Linked DNA regions of Homo sapiens: region 1 is linked to region 2. The links come from fine-mapping of genetic effects on gene expression. A gene starts in region 2. The other region holds a variant in brackets. All regions are shown on one strand. Distances are between the middles of the regions. Region 1 overlaps FANCD2 (FA complementation group D2). Region 2 holds the start of PRRT3 (proline rich transmembrane protein 3).

Region 1 (4,000 bases), 130 kb after region 2:
TTTTTTTTTTTCCCAAACCCTGTGTGTGGCATTCAAAGTCATTTTTTAAATCACAGGATATTTAGGAAACGCATCTTGGATCCACAACTAGAAAGGTATACAGAGGAATTTATAGAGAAAAAGTATGTCTTCTAAACTATCCTGTCTTGAATTATTATTTTACTATTCTGAATATTTATTTTGGACATGCTTGACTTTATTATATGACAGAGCATAATAGCTATCCTTTATATGAGATGGGTGCAGTTTCCTCCCTTGCCTCTTTTTTCTTTTTAGAGACAGAGTCTTGCTCTGTCACCCAGGCTGAAGTGCAGTGGCAAGATCATAGCTCACTGCAACCTTGAACTCCTGGGTTCAAGGATCAAGTGATCCTCCCACCTCAGCCTTCCAAGTATCTAGGGCCACTGGCATGCCCCACTACACCCGGCTAGTTTTTTTATTTGTTTGTTTGTTTGTTGGAGACGGAGTCTTGCTCTGTCCGTCAGTCTGGAGTGCAGTGGCACGATCTTGGCTTACTGCAGCCTCTGCCTCCTGAGCTCAAGTGATTCTTCTGCCTCCTGAGCTCAAGCGATTCTTCTGCCTCAGCCTCCCAAGCAGCTGGGATTACAGGTGCCCACCACCACATCAGCTAATTTTTGTATTTTTAGTAGAGATGGGATTTCACCACATTGGCCAGGCTGGTCTCAGACTCCTGACCTCAAATGATCTGCCTGCCTTGACCTCCCAAAGTACTGGGAGTTTGAGACCAGCCTGGGTAACACAGTGAGACCTGTCTCTACAAAAAGTTAAAAAAAAAAAGTAGCCAGGCATGGTGACGCACACCTGTGATCCCAGCTACCTGGGCGGCTGAGGTGGGACCATCACTTGAGTCCAGGAGGTTGAGGCTGCAGTGAGCTGTGAACACAATATTGCACTCCAGCCTGAGCAACAGAGCGAGACCCTGTCTCAAATATAAGTAAATAAATAAATAAAAGTCAAATTATTTACCCTGCTGGGCGCAGTGGCTCACGCCTCTAATCACAGCACTTTGGGAGGCTGAGACAGGCGTTATCACCTGAGGTCGGGTTTGAGACTAGCCTGGCCAACGTGATGAAACCCATTTCTACTAAAAATACAAAAATTAGTCAGGCATGGTGGTGGGCACCTGTAATGCCAGCTACTTGGGAGGCTGAGGCAGGAGAATTGCTTGAACCTGGGACGCAGAGGTTGTAGTGAGCCAAGATCATGCCACTGCCCTCCAGCCTGGGTGACGGAACAAGACTCTGTCTCAAAAAAAAAATTTTTTTTTCACCCATTGGGAAGTATTAACATGAAATAGCCAGGTGTGGTGGCTCATGCCTGTCCATAATCCCAATACCTTGGGAGGCCAAGGCAGGAGGATTGCTCAAGCCCAGGAGTTTGAAACCAGCCTGGGCAACAAAGTGAGACCCCGTCTGTATAAAAAAATTTAAAAATTCGCTGGGCCCAGGTGTGGTGGTTCATACCTGTAATCCTGGCATATTGGGAGGCCAAGGCAGAAGGATCATCTGAGCCCAGGAGTTTGAGACCAGCTTGGGCAATATAGTGAGACCTCATTTCTTATTAATTAAAAAAAAAAATGTAGCTGGGCATGGTTGTGTGTGCCTATAGTCCCCGCTACTCGGGAGGCTGAGATGGGAGGATAACTTGGGCCCAGGAGTTCAAGGCTGGAATAGCTATGATCTTGCCACTGCACATTTAACAAAAAAGAAAGAAAAAAAATTATCATGAAATGACTAGGACATTCCTGGAACTAATCCTTTCCTCCATGTGACAGGCTACAGAAGTTGTGCAACTTGGGCCCCCTGAGCTGCTTTTCTTGCTGGAAGATCTCTCCCAGAAGCTGGAGAGTATGCTGACACCTCCTATTGCCAGGAGAGTCCCCTTTCTCAAGGTTAGTGTAGGCAGAAGCATAGGACTTGGGCATAGTGGATTTGGGA[A/G]CAAAGGAGGTATTATGATGAAAAAGTTGTCACTTTCTTTGGCATTGTGTTTGGGTCACTGGGTAGCATGGGTGCAGCCGTATTGCCAGACAATATTCATCTTGCTTTATTTATTTATTTATTTATTTAGAGATGGAGTCTCGCTCTGTCGCCCAGGCTGGAGTGCAGTGGTGTGATCTCGGCTCACTGCAAGCTCCGCCTCCCGGGTTCATGTCATTCTCCTGCCTCAGCCTCCCGAGTAGCTGGGACTACAGGTGCCTGCCACCACGCCTGGCTAATTTTTTGTATTTTTTGTAGAGACGGGGTTTCACCGTGTTAGCCAGGATGGTCTCAATCTCCTGACCTTGTGATCCGCCCACCTTGGCCTCCCAAAGTGCTGGGATTACGGGCATGAGCCACCGCGCCCGGCCTCATCTTGCTTTAAATAGGAAGTCTGAAGGCTGGGCGTGGTGGCTCACGCCTGTAATGCCAGCACTTTGGGAGGCCAAGGAGGGCAGATCACTTGAGTTCAGGAGTTCAAGACCAGCCTGGCCAACATGGTGAAACCCCATCTCTACTAAAAATACAAAAAGAACTAGCCGGGCATGGTGGTGCAGCTATAGTTCCAGCTACTTGGGAGGCTGAGGCATGGGGAGGAGGAGGTTGCAGTGAGCTGAGATTGCACCAGTGCACTCCAGTCTGGGTGACAGATTTCGTCTCAAACAAAAAAAAAAGTCTACCTGTGCAGTGGTTCACACCTGTAATTCCAGCACGTTGGAAGGCCGAGGCAGGTGGATCACCTGAGGTCAGGAGTTTGAGACCAGCCTGGCCAACGTGGCAAGAGCCTGTCTCTACTAAAAATACAAAAAAAATTAGCCAGGTATGGTGGCGCATGCTTGTAGTCCCAGGTACTTGGGAGGCTGAGGCAGAAGACTTGATTGAACCCAGGAGGCAGACGCTGCAGTGAACCAAGATCATGCTACTGCACTCCAGCCTGGGCATTAGAACAAGACTCTGTCTCAGAAATAAAAAAAAAAAAATAGGAAGTCTGAAACAGAAAATAGAAAGGCACTTGGAATAAGAAATGTATTTCTTTTTTTGAGACGGAGTCTCGCTGTGTCTCCCAGGCTGGAGTGCAGTGGTGCAATCTCGGCTCACTGCAGCCTCTGCCTCCTGGGTTCAAGCGATTCTCCTGCTGCAGCCTCCTGAGTAGCTGGGGACTACAGGCGCGCGCCACCACACCCAGCTAATTTTTGTATTTTTAGTAGAGATGGGGTTTTAACATGTTCATCAGGCTGATCTCGAACTCCTGACCTCATGATCCGCCCACCTCGGCCTCCCAATCCGCCCACCTCGGCCTCCCAAAGTGCTGGGATTATAGGCGTGAGCACTGCGCCCAGCCTACGAAATGTATTTCTAAATGCCCTGAACATTCCTGAATCCTGTTCTTTACTTGAATTTTGGTTTCAACAGCCTCCCAAACCAAGCCTGGGCCCATGCCTCAGTGTAGTAGTAAGCTGTCTAGAACGTCCAGAACTTCAGATGTGTATACAGTGTACAAACGTGCACCTAGCATCCGGGGAAGCAGTTGGACGGTACATATAACAAAATGAGAAAATCTTGGGTCTTGGGTATAAGCATTTAAACATTAATATATCCCGTTTCTTGGTTTCTTGATTCATTTTTCTTCTTCGTCTTCTTTTTTTTTTTTGAGGCGGAGTCTTGCTTTGTTGCCAGGCTGGAGTGCAGTGGCTTGATCTTGGCTCACTGCAACTTCCGCCTCCTGGGTTCAAGCGATTCTCCTGCCTCAGCCTCCCGAGGAGCTGGGACTACAGGTGCACGCCACCACACCCAGCTAATTTTTGTATTTTTAGTAAAGATGGGGTTTCACCATGTTGGCCAGGATTGTCTTGATCTCTTGACCTCATGATCCACCCGCCTTGGCCTCCCAAAGTGCTAGGATTACAGGCAAGAGCTACAGTGCCCAGCAATTCATTCTTCTTTGTATTCACTATCGGGTCTACTTTTTGAGACAGGGCTTTGCTCTGTTGCCCAGGCTGGAG
Region 2 (4,518 bases):
GAGACGGAGTCTTGCTCTGTCGCTCAGGCTGGAGTGCAGTGGCGTGATCTCGGCTCACTGCAACCTCCACCTCCCAGGTTCAAGTGATTCTCCTGCCTCAGCCTCCCGAGTAGCTGGGGTTACAGACATGTGCCACCACACCTGGCTAATTTTTATATTTTTAATAGAGATGGGGTTTTGCCATGTTGGCAAGGCTAGTCTTGAACTCCTGACCTCAGGTAATCTGCCCATCTTGGCCTCCTAAAGTGCTGGGATTACAGGCATGAGCCACTGCACCCTGCCTGAAATGTTATTCCTAAAGGCCCACTTCAAAAATGAGAGACGTGGAGAGGGAGAGGAATATGCACCGGCCTTTGGCGAGGGGCCTGAGTTTGAATCCCAGTGTCTTCATTTCCTGGGGGAGTCATTTCACCTCTCTGCATCATAGTTTTCCCATCAGTAAAATGGGGATAATAAGCATGCCTAACTCAAGGCATGAGACAAATAACCAAACAGGTATGGGCGAGGTTCATACCTGATGCTTGACAAGCGTTACACATTCCTCTTCCCGCCTTCCTTCCCTCATCTTCCTGGGCACTTGTCACTCTGGTCTGATTCTATAATAATCTCCTGCCTCTTATTTCAAACCTGCAGCCTCCAGTATATACCTGGCCCCACGTGGATATCCCCTAAAAGTTCCTGTTCTCGAGAGCCTGTCAGTGGGCCAGGGAGGCAGGAAGGGGCCCCACCACCAGGAGAGGTTTCATGGAGGGTGCGAGAGCTGAAGCCTGGGTGTGTTTGGCGGCAGAGGCCCTGCTCTTTTCCTCTCTGGGGAGCAGCTGTCCCCAAAGCTTCCTGGCTGTTAACCCATGGTGGCTCACAGACACCTTAAGAAGCCACTGAAAACCCCTGGTGCTCTCCCGGGGAAAAGACCCAGGCTCACCGAAAGTTGTGAACAATTTCAAGGGGTTCAAAGACCTTTGAGTCCCATCCTCCAAACTCGAGTTTAGACTCTGTCTTAAAGCCTTGTTAGTTCATTTCTCAAACATTCACGGAGCCCCATGGGCTGCTCCTGGTCTAGGCTAGGTGCTGGGGGCCCAGAGACAGGGCTTTGCTCCAGGGTTGGGAGTAGGGGTGCGCTGAGACGCCCCTAACACAGGTACTGGCTAAAAACAGTGCTCCTGTGTTTAGTTCTTTCCCAGTGAGGCTCCTGCGCTGAGCTTAGCAACACGTCACTCCGCCCTCCCAATACAAGGTGTGGGAACAGCCATTTCACAGGGGGAAGAAACGGGGGTTCAGAGAGGGTGAGCAACTCCCCCAAGGTCACACAGCTGAGTGGACACAATCGGGGTTGTGAAACCCTCGGAGGCTCATCTTCCACAGGAGGTCCAAAAAGCTTTGCCGAGAAAACGGCTGAATGGGGCCTCCAAAGATAAACATGCCATCTGCCTACCACTGCCAACCCAAGAGATGTGGGCACCTGCGGACAAGGCGGGGGCTTGCCCAGCCCTGGGCTCCCACTCTGCTGGAGAGGCTGTGGGGGGTGGCGGATCTCTCTGCCGCAGGGACTGGGGAGAGGCCGGCCTGGGGGCAGGGCGAGGCCGTTGCGGGGCAGCCTCGGAGCTGGTCCATCTCGGGTTACCTCTCCTCCTCCTCCTCCTCCTCCTCCGTCTCCTCTCTCCCTGGCTCCGCGCCTTCCCGCAGTGTCCTGGATGGGGGTGGGCGCCGTGCAGGCCTGGTCGCCTGCGCCCGCGACGGGGGCAGCAGGCCACGCTCCCCGTCGGGGTCCCGCCATCGCCCCCTCCCTGGGCCAGCTCCTCACCTGCGCGCCGCAGCCCCCGTGTTCACCTTGCGCGCGTCCCTGCAGCCGATCGCCGCGCCGCATCCTCCGAGATGCTCAGACTCGGCTAACAGAGCCCGGCGCTGCCGATCGCGAGCCCGCCCACAGGAGCGCAGCCCTGCTTAACTCTTTCCCCTTAGGGGTGGACTCTTCTGTCAACCCTGACTTCCCCTCGCTCAGGGATTGTCAGGGCTCAGAGTGGAACCGAGGTCATCTCTGAGGGATGTGGAAATGTCTTCTGCAGCATCCCTGAAAACGGGGCAGCTAGCCTCTGCTTGCATACCTCATGGGACGGGGAGCTCACTTCCTTTCTATATCCCTACATCCTTTTAGGTAAATCCTACCTACAGCTTGGTATGTATCCTTCAGATTCTTCTCAATGTACAGTTACATGTACATCTTAAATAGAAATGACATCATACTGTATACTTTTTTTTTTTTTTTTTGAGACAGTCTTGCTCTGTCGCCCAGGCTGGAGTGCAGTGGCGTGATCTCGGCTCACTGCAACCTCCGCCTCCCAGGTTCAAGTGGTTCTCCTGCCTCAGCCTCCCTAGTAACCATGCCTGGCTAATTTTTATATTTTTAGTGGAGACAGGGTTTCACCATGTTGGCCAGGGTGGTCTCGAACTCCTGACCTCAGGTGATCAGCCCGCCTCGGACCCCCAAAGTGTTGGGATTACAGGCGTCAGCCACCGTGCCCAGCCACTGTACACATTTCTGTAATTTGTCTTTTTCACTTTCCAATATATTCTGGCACATTTTTCATGTAAATATCTATAGATCTATATCATTTCTTGTATCCACTGTTGAGAATTCCAGCATATGGTCAGCTAGTTATTGTTCTTTATCCTGTCCCCTGTAATTGGACATAGGTTGTTTCTAGCCTTTTGCTCGCAGGGATAATGGAGCAGGGGCCATTCCTTGCTTAACACATCACTGTGCACGTACACTAGTGCACCTACCAGATAATTGCCTAGCCGAGGCATGGTAGTAAAATCTATGGGTCTGCATATGGGGCTGGTAGACACTGTCAAAATGTTCTTGGTCTTTCTTTGAACACCTCTTGATATACTAAACATCCATTATTAGGCTCAATTCCTTAAGGGAAAGCCACACAGGAAATATATGTGGTTATCAAAAATGAGATAGGGCTGGGTGCAGTAGCTCACACCTGTAATCCCAGCACTTTGGGAGGCCTAGAGAGGAGGATCATTTTGAGCCCAGGAGTTCAAGACCAGCATGGGCAAGATGGTGAGACTTTTTTAAATTAAAAAACAAACAAAAAAACAAAAAAACTAGCTGGGCGTGGTGGTACATGCCTGTAGTCCTACCTACTCCAGAGGCTGAGGCCAGAGAATCATTTGAGCCCAAGAGGTCAAGATTGCAGTAAGCTATGGCCACTGGAGTGTCACTGGAGTGCATTGACCACTCTGTCCATTGACCACAAGCTGTGTCACTGGAGTGCAATGACCACTGCACTCCAGCCTGGGCAGTAGAGCGAGACTGACAAAAAAAAAAAAAAAAAAAAAAAAGAAGAAGAAGAAGAAGAAGAAAATTTGGCCTGTATAATGGCTCATGCCTATATTCCCAGCACTTTGGGAGGCCAAGGCTGGAGGACTGCTTGAACCCAGGAGTTCGAGACCAGCCTGGGCAACATGGCAAAACCCCATCTCTACCAAAAAAAAAAAAAAAAAATTAGCCAAGTGTGGTGGTGCGCACCTGGGTCCCAGATACTCAGGAGGGTTATGTGGGAGGATCACTTCAGTCCAGGAGCCAGAGGTTGCAGTGAGCCAAGGTCGCACCACCGCACTCCAGCCTGGGTGACAGAAAGAGACCCAGTATCAAATAAAAAATCAAATTTCACTTAAAAAAGAAAAAGAAAAAATTCTTCCTAGGGCTGAGCTGACATCTCCCTCCCAATGGCTTCCTACCTCTAGCTCTCACAGAAAAGCAATACTCAGGCCCCAGTTGTGTCTGACGTGTTGCAGTTTGAAGAATATTCCATCCCTAATGGCTGGTAAATGGTGGGGCCTGCATTCAGCTGCTTGACTCTGGGAGAGGGTGCAGGCCTTGCCCGTTTCACACATGACCTGACCAGCTCTGTTTTCCTTGTTGGAGCCACTTCAGAATTGTAAAGGCATCTCTCATTTCTCTAGAGTCTTCTTTCTCCAGGACAAACACTCCGAGTTTTTCAGCTGTTCCTTGCAGGACAGGATTCTGGGTTCTCACCATGTGGAATCTCTTCTCTGTTTGCTTCTTACCAGCTCAACAACGCCCCTCTGAAAGTAGGACTCTTGGAAATGAACCTTGTTGGGAGTAAAGCTGAACCTTCACCTCTCCTTTCCAGGATTCTACTCCATTCATACGGCCTCACACTGAATTAATGTTTCTAGCAGCCACATTACTTTGTTACCCAATTGATCTAGTAGTAAAGTCTTCCCATCTCTTCATGTACCACTGGTTTATTGACTCTTAATGTAGGATTCTACATTTGTTTGTTGTTTATCTTGTTAGATCCAGCCTGTTGTTACAATCTTGTAGGAAGTTAACTGGATCCTGATTCTACATATAGCTGATTGACATTTTGGAGGGTTTTGCAATAACCATTTCCCTTCCTGACAGCATCCTAACTTCCTTTGGGGGACCTGTGTCTGTTCCCATGTGGGCAGTCTTGGCCAGAATGCAGTCCTAGGGCCCCC

Evidence for each region. PIP is the estimated chance that this variant, and not a neighbour inherited with it, causes the effect. A credible set is the group of variants that fine-mapping cannot tell apart.
Region 1: its variant is the best candidate, but not a certain one, in a credible set for the expression of PRRT3 in whole blood (INTERVAL, PIP 0.73).

The regions. Positions count from the first base shown.
Region 1 is chr3:10,076,286-10,080,285 of GRCh38, forward strand. It overlaps FANCD2 (FA complementation group D2), which reads left to right. Exons shown (of 44, transcript NM_001018115.3): 30 at 1,796-1,912. Among named protein-coding and RNA genes, the nearest start is that of FANCD2OS, 30 kb to the right of the region's middle. The variant A/G (reference allele first, on the strand shown) is at 1,959.
Region 2 is chr3:9,950,521-9,955,038 of GRCh38, forward strand. PRRT3 (proline rich transmembrane protein 3) reads right to left here and starts at 1,888. Exons shown (of 4, transcript NM_207351.5): 1 at 1,802-1,888. It overlaps PRRT3-AS1 (PRRT3 antisense RNA 1), which reads left to right. Exons shown (of 4, transcript NR_046734.1): 4 at 4,084-4,267. RefSeq lists a silencer at 1,387-1,926.